Linked DNA regions of Homo sapiens: all the other regions are reported to be linked to region 2. Evidence: microRNA targets listed by miRTarBase, many of them from high-throughput screens and not tested one by one. Region 2 holds a microRNA gene; each other region holds the end of a gene's coding sequence.
The links. Region 2 holds the annotated microRNA hsa-miR-876-3p (UGGUGGUUUACAAAGUAAUUCA, at 2,436-2,457, opposite strand). A microRNA usually pairs through its seed, bases 2 to 8, with sites in the 3' UTR of a target mRNA and lowers its output. Matches are read on the target gene's strand: a 7mer-m8 pairs with bases 2 to 8, a 7mer-A1 pairs with bases 2 to 7 and ends in A, and an 8mer does both.

Region 1: miRTarBase lists USP53 as a target of hsa-miR-876-3p. Seed matches in the 3' UTR shown: 8mer at 2,371-2,378.
Region 3: the mRNA of NDST3 is a reported target of hsa-miR-876-3p. Seed matches in the 3' UTR shown: 7mer-A1 at 1,811-1,817.

Annotation. Positions count from the first base shown.
Region 1 is chr4:119,292,512-119,296,511 of GRCh38, reverse strand. USP53 (ubiquitin specific peptidase 53) reads right to left here. Exons shown (of 19, transcript NM_001371395.1): 19 at 994-4,000. The coding sequence ends at 3,301. ARLN (allregulin) reads left to right here. Exons shown (of 2, transcript NM_001001701.4): 2 at 1-93. Among named protein-coding and RNA genes, the nearest start is that of ARLN, 6.1 kb to the left of the region's middle.
Region 2 is chr9:28,861,201-28,865,881 of GRCh38, forward strand. MIR876 (microRNA 876) reads right to left here and starts at 2,506; the gene lies at 2,426-2,506. The region is part of intron 2 of LINGO2 (leucine rich repeat and Ig domain containing 2); the gene reads right to left.
Region 3 is chr4:118,255,478-118,259,477 of GRCh38, forward strand. It overlaps NDST3 (N-deacetylase and N-sulfotransferase 3), which reads left to right. Exons shown (of 14, transcript NM_004784.3): 14 at 116-3,157. The coding sequence ends at 235. It overlaps LOC105377392 (a long non-coding RNA gene), which reads right to left. Exons shown (of 3, transcript XR_939113.3): 2 at 3,499-3,598. Among named protein-coding and RNA genes, the nearest start is that of SNHG8, 21 kb to the right of the region's middle.

The DNA.
Region 1 (4,000 bases), not on the chromosome of region 2:
CTGGGCTTACTGTCTGCGGAAAGCAGATTGTGGGACTTCTCAGCCTCCATAATCACAAGAGCCAATCCCTCATAATAAATTTATTTCTATATATATCCTGTTGATTCTCTTTCTATGGCAAACCCTGACTTAGTAATATGACATGACTGTAATTGGCATTTTCAAAATGGTGGCAGTATGAAGGCTGAATCTTTCCTATAGGTAAGAAATTGTACCTACCATTAAACTGTGCCATAGCAAGTATAGTGACTGCTTACATTGCCCTCAGTTTGAAGGCTTTTAAGAAGTGGATAAATGGAACGCCAAGAAAAGTTGCAAACTTGCTAAGATAACAAAACAAAAAAGACATCAAAAGAAAATGTGACTTTACTCTGATAAATTCTTTTGTAAATTTCACACCATTTTATATAAAGTGAAATGATTGTTTTAGTAGTTCCTTTTGAAATGAACTGGCTTGTTAGCAGTTGCAAGGGATAGTTTTTAGGGAGCTTAACCTGAACGTTTTAGGATGTAAAGAGCTGCAAATACTCAGTCCGTAAGTGGCATGGGAGTACATTTGGAGACTTCAGCCTGTGAGCTAAGAATATTTTTTACATTTTAAAATGGAGAAAAAAAAAACTTTCATGACATGAAAGTTATATGCAATCTGGATTTCTATGTTGACAAAGTTTTACTGGAAAACAGCCATGCTCATTCATTTACATATTGTTTATGGCTGCTTTCACATTACAAAGGCAGAGTTGAGTAGTTATTACAGAAATATTATGGTCCACAAAGCCTAAATTATTTTCTATCTTTATAGAAAGTTTGCCAACTCCTTTTCTAAGGAGCTGTGCTTTAGACCTTGCTGGAGTTTAACTCCTAGGATCTCCTGTGATAACCGTTTATGATCAGTGAAATTCCAAGTACCCGCGACTTAACATGTCCCAAAATAATCCACGTTGGTGGGAGGGTGACACACAGTTCATGAATGCAAAGAGAAGTCCAATCATATAAACTTAAAAATCAGTTTATCTTAAAATTTTTTTGAATTAGAAGAAATTGATTTCACATGAAAATATAACATTCTGAAGGTAAGTATTTTAAACATTACAACTGTTGGCTGAAATATTTACAAAGTTATAATAAGCTTATAACTGGATGAAAGCATCTATAAAAATAAATAGGCACCCTAGATGTAAAACTTTTACATGAAATAAAATGATTAGTATATATGTATCAATCTGTATCTGGAGTGTTGAATCAACAAAAATAAATGGGCATTTTCTAGTTTGTGTAGTAGTACATGAGTCAGGAGGTTTCAACTGGACAGTACTTAAAAGAGGCAAAACTGGACATTTCTATTTGATATCTACAACTCAACTGAGTTGAAAAGACAAATGTCTGAGACTGCTGTTAAATACAAAAATTAGTTTAAATGTTTCAAATAATACATTTCCAACTCACATCTTAACCAAATAGAAAAAAAAAACTACACAAACTGTGAAAGCTATTAAAAAACTTGAAGCCCATTTTTCTAGTATCTTACAATGTTATAAAAGAAGAAAAACTTTGGTATTTTAAATACAGGTTTACAAACTTTACATTATTTACAAACCCTCCACACTAAAAAATTATGTTAAAAATAAGCTTTCTTAAAACAAAATTAATTTGGCATTCAAGTATTTCTAACTTACGAGAATATAAAGTAATGATCACTCACTATTATAGTTTAAAAAGGCTAGTAAAAACTATAGGCAGAAGATAAAATTTGGCCAAGACTTGGTAACTGGGTGAAGTTAGACTTTTATAAGCAATTATTTTCTGTTTAACAGTATTCACATTAAATTAGTTACAACATTTTAGAATGTTTTAACACGATTTACGCAATCAGTCAAGTGGCTACATTTACTAGTTTATTGAATATGAGGTTTATCCATTTAGCAATGTAAGGAAAACTTTAGTTCTGTTTCTCAGTTATCAGGAGTGAACATAAAACTATTCTAAACCACAATTAGTTTACCAGCATAGTACAAAATAAAATGACAACTAACGAAATAAAGCAATTAAAGTAACTTATTTTTACTCATAAGGTTACCATAATAATAAAAATTCCTTTAATTTTCAAAGCACTCTTCATGAAAAGTAGTTGGGGTAAAATTACTATTTGTTCAAAGTAGAATAAAAGGGAAGGATGCTCTAATTAAACATTTTATTAAAATTAAACTCTCTATATGAAAGGTAGAAATTTAATCTGGAAACCTAGATAGATTTTCAAATTCAGATAAAATGGGTTGACAACCTATAAGCAGGTAATATTACAGCAAAGAAAATGTAGGCAATTACAGTGACATTCCCAATAAGAGGGTGCCCTACATTAATTCCTAACACTGGTGGTTAGCAGCCCAAAGTAAACCAAACCAAAATAAAGACCTTTCACATTTCATATAAAATTAGAAAAAAAGTAACGAGATAAATAAATACACTAAAGTTTAAGTATTTTAACTTTTTAACTTACATGGCTAAAGTAGCATTTATGAATACCTATAATAGTCAAAGGCCTAATTTATCTTAACTAGATATTCTGAAGACAAAAATTCTAGGAGCAAAATTAAATTCCATCCGATCTTGAAAACTTACAAATTGTTAATCATATAAGGCTTTTTTTCCCCAAATGCTATCAAATTCATAAGTCATTTTTTTTAAAGACACTTAAAGGGATCATATGCAGTGACTATCATAGAAGTCAAAAACAAATGGGTGAAGCCCTTTTCTGGTTACCCATTAGAAAGTGCTTCTTCATAAAGCAATTCTTTGACAAAAAAGTACCAGGCTATGTATCACCTGGTACTTTTCAATTAGCATAGTTTATAATCTCCATACATGAGTACTGGTTAGTTTAATACTTCCCAGTCTACTGGCCACAAAATAGGGGGACAAATTTAATTTTTATTCAACTGTAGCATATGACAAATGAATTATTATATCTCCCTGATTTTCTATTTTTCACGGCACGCCAAGACTATTCAAAGGGAATTTCTAAAATATCTAAGATATTGATCATAAAATTATATATGTGTATACACATATACACATACATATGTATAGTGATTAACAACTTTAAAAATGCCACAGGCTTTAATTTTATGTATCACTAGGTTTGGTCAGTAGGTTCCTATTATATTTAAATGGCCTCTGAGAAGTAAAAGTTGGTCAGTTTTACCAGTTATCTATTACAATGTATGCTAGGTTTATATCTTTGTTCAGAAGGGCAGCTTGAACCAAGATTATTATGTAACACAGGTCTAGTCCTTTTTCACTCTAAGATAGTGAATTATTACAAAAGCCACTGCTCTCTGGAAAAGAGAGCTTGGGCCTCTGATGGTATTTCAATCTATATGTATCCGTCATGCAGCTATCAACTGAAAAATAGGTAGTTAATGAAACTGTCTCATTTGGACAGGTAGAAATAGAGTCTAGTTCTGGTTGGCAAAATGCATCAATGGCACCTGAGTTTGCCTGAAAATCGTTAGTTGAGGAGCTGGATGGACAGTTTGGTGTGTTGCCAAAACATTCTCTCACTTGAAATGTTTCTTTATGTCTTTCATCATTCATATGTGTACTCACTTCTAAACTTGGTTCTGAAGCTGTACTTAAACTGTGCTTCGGAAGATGAGAGGTAGCTTTAAACACCTCTGTAAGTTTGACATCAGGTGTAGATTCGCTTTTCTCTGACTGTGGCACACTGGTTATAGCATATTTCTTTGGTGGCAAAGGGGGTGGTAGATTCTGGCAAAAAAGTTTTGGCATCTGACACCCATCAGATCTGCTGGCTGACCGAATTATACATTCTGTGGATAGAGAGTTCTCAAAGTAACATTGATCCATGATATTTTGTTGCTGGATGAGAGGAGCAGTTTCTGGCTTTAACCCAACAGTTCTTAGGTGTGAAGACCATAATGAAGATGGTTCATTACTGTTCACTCTCTTCCCAGAAGCAGAGTTATCAACGTGAAAAGGC
Region 2 (4,681 bases):
ATATATTTTTTATATAATATTATATAAATATATAATATATATTTTTTATACAATATTATATAAAATATATAATATTTATATATTATATATTTTATATATTATATATTTTATATAATATACTATATATAATATATATTATTAATATATATACATATTTAATATATATATACACACAAAAATCTTGTTGGTTCTGTTCTCTAGAAAATTCTCACAGATAACATTCATTTAAACATATCTATTCTCATATAGTTCTCACAGAAATTAGGGAAGCTTGATATTACCTTGTCCATAACAGGAGACCTCAGGTTCACTTTGAACACATGTTCTACTCATAACTGCACTCAAGCATGAGTATCTAGTGAGATTGTGTTGCTACAAAAATAAAATAAAATAAAATAAAACAAAATAAAATAAATTAGCTGGGCATGGTGGCAGGCACTGTAGTCCCAGCTCCTCAGGAGACTGAAGTGGGATGATTGCTTGAACCCAGGAAATCAAGGCTGAAGTGAGCTATGATTGCACCACTGCACCCCAGCCAGGGCAACATATGTTTTTTGTCTCTTACCAAAAAACACAAAACCTACACTAAAAATTAATTCATTGTTTGTAAACCTGTATTTATCTTAAAAATAAAAAAAGCGGTAGTGAAATAAATATAAAGAAGTTGGGATTAAAATTAGGATACAAGGATATAGGTACATGATTATGAGATATGCTTATTAGTCCATTAGCACATCCCATTATATCTCCCGTAAACTAAAAATTATCTTAAGAAAAAATATTGTGACTTCCTTCTAAATTCATATATCAGCAGTTCTACATATTATCATTAAAAACATAAGCTTCGGCTCAAAGGAAATTTTACAGGTGCCCCCTTTCATAAAACAGAAAAATCAAAGAGCTCTAGGACAAATTAATTTCAGAAACCTGTCTTCTCAGACTCTTTTCCCACCTGTCCTCACACATCAGCAAAGTAGCACCCAACAAAAGCACAGGAAATCCCAGAGCTCTGTGGATTTTGCTTATGAACATACAGTCCTATGAAAAATAAGGTTACATATGTATCAGACAAGGAATGGTAATAATAAATACTGAAGAATTAAAGGCTAGGAAATAAGAATAACATGTTTGTATCATAGTTCAAATTAAATTAGAGTAGCAAGATATTTCTTAGGTAAAGCATTTCCAATCATATTTATACACATATATTTTAAGGTTAAAAGTATACATATTGATTCATTCTTTTGGTCATTTATATGTTGAAAAATAATATACTGATTTTCTTTTATCTAACAGAAGGGCTTAAAAATTAGTATGCTAATTTATTTAAAGTCACCCAACCTTATAGAGCATATGCATAATCCACTTCTAAGGAATGAAACATAACAGGACAAAATAAAGTCATAATGAATACAATAGATATATTCAATGATGATGCAAAAGTAATTTCAGAAGCCTGTACCACTGTCACTTAGGTGTCCAGATGTGTCACTTAAGAAATTAAAGGTCAGAAGTTTTCATAGTTCTGACAGTCTTATAGTCATACCATTGAACTTAAATAAGACCTACGCTCTAGCCTTGGAAATAAATAAAAAACGGTAAAACCAAAATGACTATTTGAAAGCTTAATCAGTTATTAAAATAGTTAATCATCAATTGTTTGATTTATGGTCAGGGATAATCCATTCTTGGTAATCCTGATGACAGAAATGACCACAAAGTTCCATTTATTTTAATAAGCAATTACTAGTCAACAATTAGGCTTTTGTGACCTTGTAAAGGTTACACAATCTTTTCTGTCATAGAATAGGACTATAGATACTGTTTCCAGAAGAGTAAATGAAAATGAATGCCCAGTGAATACCTAATTTTAATATATGCCATCAAAATGTACAATTTGGTATGTTAAGGTGATTTTTTTTGCCCACACCAATGTTTTTCTTGTTAAAATAAAATGTTGCTTTTTACAAAAGTACTGCATAACAATGATGTCTTCAAGCCCCTGATCATTTACCAAACTATTTAATTAATATATTAATTGGGCATAATAATCCAAATAAAATATGATATTTAAACTTCAAAATGGTATGCTTAGGATTTAAGGGGCTGATTCAATTAATGTTTCTGATGTATCATGTTTTTTTAACCAAGAAATATTACAAATTACTTTTCAAAAAAAGAACAGTAGAGACAGAGACAGCAACTATGTAAAACATGTATATTTAGGTAAAGTAACCATAATTTCTGGTGTGTTTGACACAGGTTTGATCACTGTTAACACTAAGCACCAAATAGAAGGATTCTAGAGTATATTTACCAGGGATCTCTTGACTTTGTGTGTCTTGTAATACAAAGTGGCTTGTTCTCAATGGCTCAGTAAAGGAATCTTAGGCTTCATGGTGTAGATCAACTGCAGAAGCACCTGTGAAGCACTATGAATTACTTTGTAAACCACCACCACATTAGCTTAGATATGGTGATTCACAAAGAAATCCACAGCACTTCACAGTTTGTGTAAAGCCTGGTACCTATGAACCAACAAAAACAGTACCCTTTGGCCACCAAAAGTTGAGGAAGTATTTCCATCTAGTTCACAATCAATTGAAGAATATGCTCAGTTTTGCACCACCCTCTTTTAGCTGAAACACACAAGAAACACTGAACATTTATTTTAAGTAAATAAAACTTAAAAATAAATGCATGCTTTCTATATTATATACCAGTAAATTTCATTTAAAAGAATTCCTAATACAATAACTAGCATGACATTATGCAGGATGAAAAAACAGGGTTCTGCTCATCAAAATAAAAGGGCATGGTTATTAATATAGATGTCAGGAGTAGGGAGTAGAATAAATAATAAAACTATATGTAATTCTCACATCCATATCACAGTATATAAGTGTTGCTGGGATAATTTGTTCTAAAGATATCCTCAGTTACTTAGCTTCCCACTTTATACTCATATAATCTCATATCCTATGACACAAGCTTACCAATGTTACAAATCTGCCCTTGTACCCCTGAACTTAAAATAAAAGTTCAAAGGCAATCATTAAATGAGTTTAACCTGAGTGTTTTTTCCTCTGATATTTGTCCAAGTAAGTATTTTTTCATATGACTGCTGAAGTCCAAGAATGTTTATAAAACTAAATTCTATATTATACATATTAGGTTCAACTCTGAAAGAAAACCACACCAATAAAAAATGAAAAACAAACAATAAAGTTACTCTCCTTTGCAAAATAACCAGAATCCCACCTTTTAACTTTTATCTAAAGAGCAAAAAGAAAGGTTTCATTTATAATTAATGAAAAGAATCTATAAATCTTCCCAGCCTAGTAAGCATAATATCAATCAAGTAATTCATGCTTTTGAAAATTTCAACATTTTTCAAAGTAACCATCAAATGTCAACATTAATTAAAAGTTTGCTTTATAGAAGCTCATGAACATAAGAGTCCTAGGCAGTTCACCACTGTCAGTGTAGGTCACTGCTCAGGAATACCCTACTCACCTCCACCAACCACACATATAACAACCAAGCCAAACTTGCTAAGTATCTGAATAATTAAAAATATTTAAATAAAAAATTTGTAGAAAATATGTATGTATGAAAAAAAAATATTTGTTTTGCGCTTATCATGTGCCAGGCATAGTCTTGGTTAGATGCTGGGGATATAAAAACTCCAGGTTTCAAGAAATACAAAGGAGAAAACAAGAATTTGAAAAAAGCAGTAATAGGTGTTATGAAAAGTTTCCATATAGGGCTAATGGAGACATGGAGAGGCCACTTAATTCAGTGCTAAGAGCGTTGATTACAGATGTCTTCTCTAAGGGAATACCATATATAAGAGAACTGAAAGAGTAGCAGGAATTAGCAATGAGAAGGGTGGGGTAAGTGTTCTAAGCAGAAGAGAACACATATACCACGGCCTATCCAAAGAAATAACGTGATTTTTATTTTATTTTTTGGTATACTATAGCTGAAAAGGAAAACTGCTGCTACAGTTAGAGTAGGTGAACACAAGTGAGCATCACCAGATCAGAGGCAGCAGGGACAGAAAAATTTGAAGTAAGAGAACTCCAGAATAATGAGGCAACCTGTCTGAAATATGGGCAGAGTAAAGGAGCAGTTATACAAAGGTCCTCCAGCTCTTCATCAAGTGTCACACTCAATCCCAAACTGGCCCAGGCAAAACCTCTTGAAGAATCAGGCCAGTTTCCCCAGTGAAATTCAGGCATACTAGTTGGGTGGAATACATTTAGAGTTTGACATGGGTTTAAAAACAAATCACCCTGGCCGGGTGTGGTGGTTCACGTCTGTAATCCCAGCACTTTGAGAGGCCGAGGCGGGAGGATCATGAGGTCAGGAGATCGAGACCATCCTGGCTAACATGGAGAAACACCGTCTCTACTAGAAAAATACAAGAAATTGGCCGGGCATAGTGGCTTGCGCCTGTAGTCCCAGCTACTCGGGAGGATGAGACAGGAGAATGTCTTTAACCCGGGAGGCAGAGGTTGCAGTGAGCCAAGATCGTGCCACTGCGCTCCAGCCTGGGTGACAGGGAGAGGCTCTGTCTCAAAAAACAAAACAAAACAAAGAAACAAAAAACAATCATCTCAACTTAAAGAGATCTTAAGTGGCTCTTTGAATAACCATTCCAATCCAAATGTAAAAT
Region 3 (4,000 bases), not on the chromosome of region 2:
TAATACAAATTTTAATCCAGATCTGGTATACTTGGTACTTATTTCAACGTAGTCAAAGTGTATGAAATGTAATAAACAAAATAAAATGTACTTTTCTCTCCTCCTCTCCACTTAGAGCAGGACATTTCTGTCAAGCTACTATCGAGATCACAACGTGGAACTCTCAAAGCTGCTGCACAAACTGGGTCAGCCTCTGCCATCCTGGCTGAGACAGGAGCTGCAGAAAGTAAGATAGCACTGAGAGAAAACTTGAGACTTCATCGTCCATGTAGAACACACCTTTTCCAAAGCTTCCAGAAGCTACCAAAAGGCAGTTGAAAAATATACCTCTTCAAATGAGAAAAAAGAACAGTTTCTTCCATGTGCTGGCACGTGGATGATTAGAAAAAAAGAAAAAGTATGTGTTACAAGCCTTGAGGCCTGTGGCCTTTCTCTTAACCCATATCTGAGCCTGTGGGATTATTGTAGACTACTGTGCACTCATGTGGAAGTCAATTGCAACCAACATAAATATCAAACACAAATGCAGAACTGTTCCATTTCATAGTAATATTTACACTTTTATATATCAACTAAGATTGTGTCTCTGTAGGTTTTTAGACCACTGTTTGCCTGTACGATGTTTTCTTATTATTTTATTCTATAAAGTGTCCTATGAAACAAGAAGCAAAATAAACATCACAATGTAGCATAAAATGTCAAAAGCATAACACCCATGAAAAATGCTTGCCAAAATTTAAATCCACTTAAGTATTTAGAAATAATTGTAAATTATAATTTGTGCTAGATCAGAGTGGAAAAGTTATATATGAGTGTTATCTGCACCAAAAAAAAATAAGTGCTATAGCAAAAGTGATTTTTTCATATACATAGTCTAGTGAATATATGTAAAAATTACTAACTCTTCCATCACAACGTAATTGTTATACTGAAATATATACTGTAAAGCTGTTGGATGGTAAATAGAAACACATCAAGTACACCAAAACAGTAAATAACAATGTAAAGTGTACTGACTGAATCCTCTAAAAGGGAGAAATTGTAGGGGTCTAAAAACATATCATCGAGAATTCTATGTCCACTTGCTGTAAGCTGTGAATCTATCCCAGTAGTCCTCACTAGTTCTACAGAAATGCATGCCTAGAGTCTGAGGTATGTGTCATCTCCAGAAACAGGTTGACTTTTAAATGTGAATAGCTATTTTTAATGCTCCCCAAAACAAAACCTATTAAACTAAAACTAAAAACAGTTTCCCTAGATGATGTGGTTAGGCTATTTACATTTAGGTTATTAAAAAATTGCATTTTCCCAGATAGTTCAAAATAAAATTATGTAATGTAGTAGAGATTTATAACAAAAAACAAATTAATATATTATTTGTAATCTAATGTTTGCAATGATACTTTTGATATAAGGCAAAGAAACATAAGCAGAGCAGAGGCCCATTTTTGAAAATATTTCACCCATCACTCTGGTGGAAGTAACAGATCATAGGTACAATTAAGGATTAGCTACTAAATTAAATGCAGGAAGTACAAAGATGAGCAAGTCATGCTCTTGAAATATATTTACATTTCAATTGTAAATAATATATATGGTTAATAAAGTTTCCAAAAAAGAAAAGAATACATCATACTTATTTTCCTGTTAATATTTACTTAATTTTTTTTTTTGAGAGGGGGACAGAGTCTCACTATGTCACCCAGGCTGGAGTGCAATGGTGTGATCTCAGCTCACTGCAACCTCCGCCTCCTGGGTTCAAGTGATTCTCCTGCCTCAGCCTCCTGAGGAGCTGGGATTACAGCCATGCACCACCACGCCCGGGTAATTTTTGTATTTTTAGTAGTGACAGGGTTTCACCATGTTGACTAGGCTGATCTTGAACTCCTGACCTCATGATCCACCCACCTTGGCCTCTCAAAGTGCTGAGATTACAAGCGTGAGCCACCATGCCCTGACTACTTAATTTTTAAATGTACTGTACATATACATAAAATTTAAGTAGTAAATTAATTCCCTGCTATGATTATAAGCCTTTATAAAATATTATCAAAGGTATGATTAGAAACAAATGGGAGGAAAACCCATAGTAAAAATATTTTCATTGTCATTTTAATGGGTAAAACTATCAATTACTAATTAGAAAATGAATTGTGAGATCCACTTACTATAAATTTTTAACTGTACATTATAATTACTTTTTTAAAGTTTCATGTACCTAAAGCATATGCTAATTTTTAAATATACTATTAGCAGAAAAAATTGGAAAAATCACCAATTTTTAAGACTCTTGACTCTAAAAGCAAAATCAAAGTGATTTGGACAAATATGGGAAACACAGTCTTCATGCTTACTGCTGTCTCTTTTATAGCAGCAGATGCCAGACATGCTAGGAAAATTACTATAGTCTTCCATCTCCACCAACTTAAGAAAACTGGCTTAGGAAGGTTAAACATGAGAATAGGCCTCAGCAGTTATATACAGTGTCATGTTTTCATTTGGCAACAACATTTATTCTAATAAAAAAAGAAAAGAAAAACTGATACATTTATGCTTTAATGGTAAGATGTACATTTGAACTGCTAAGCAAAGCTGCTAATGGCCTATTTTGTTTAGGTAAATCGAGTTGACTGAACACTTCATCCTTTTAAATAGATGTCAAAAACATACTCCGTGTTTGTATAAAGACAGGAGAAAAAGGAAGAGATCTTACCAAAATTTATTCATTCACAAGTACATGTATTACGCTAGCTAGAGCAGCAAACCTGTGAAAGGATTTTTGACCACTCAATGTGTCTTGAAGACAGCATCAAATTCTAGAGGACATGCATACTTTCCACATTATATACTCCAACTGGTTAATATGCTAATCTGAAAGTAACATAAATACATATGAGAGAATAATGAGAGATAATCTGATTTAAAACTAGCTTTGTATAGAATTCCCTTTTTCATTGTTTAAAATATGAAACTTCCTCAGGAAGAAATGAAATGGTTATTTCAATGTTTATAGCTGTAATATTCTTGTCATTCACATTGAATGAAAATTACTGGAAACATTTTTTTCTCTGAGTTTTTTAAAATAAAAAACCTAGATATAATTCTGATAGTAGCATGGTACCTCATATGTACAACAATAAACTGATAGGAAAATGAAGAGTTTGGACCTGGTGATTTTAGGTAACAGTAGGTATTTTATTGTTTTGGCCTGGGAGTGAGTGGGAGGTGGTTACGGAACATAGATACTACTAACATAATTCAAAATGAAGAGATAGAAAATTTTCAAGTAGGATATATATCTATCCTATATTTATAAAACCTTTCACAGATCCTTCTCCTCCTAAATTTATATGTTACTTGTAGTGAATTTTTTTTTAGTTCTAATAAATATAATGCAGTTTCTAGGTCATTTATGGGACCCTAGAATAAGAGAATAAGAGAATCACACAGCTGTTACTAAATGGACTTCAGAACAGGAATGATTATAGCATTTCTTACCCCTAGTATTCTGTTCTGCTCCATACCAATGAGCCCATTTCTTTCCTCAGAGTTTAAAAGGTGTTCATCTCTCTTTTCTAAAAATCTGGCAAAACAATCTCTGCAAAAAAAGGAGGGAGGGGGGATTCGGGGAGTTTAAATTTAGCCATTTATCTTCATTCTCCACACATTTTCTTTTCTCTCTTCCAATCCCTTTCTTTTCTAGACATCAGCTTTTCACATGTTGCAACCCACCCTATCTCGGGGCACCAGCTGAATACCCCACAGGCTTGCCTCCCACACACACAGCTCACTGATTGAGCTGGGACATCTCATCTCATCTTCTGCCTTCAGACTGTGATTTACAGCATTGGCTTCCCTGTTCCTCAGGCTTTCAGTCTCAGATTGGATTACACCGTTAACCACCCAGTCTCCAACTTGCACAGCAGATTATGAGACTTCTCAGCCTTATTAATTCGGCTTTTTTGGAGAACTCTAAGACACACAGTTTCACTTAGATTCC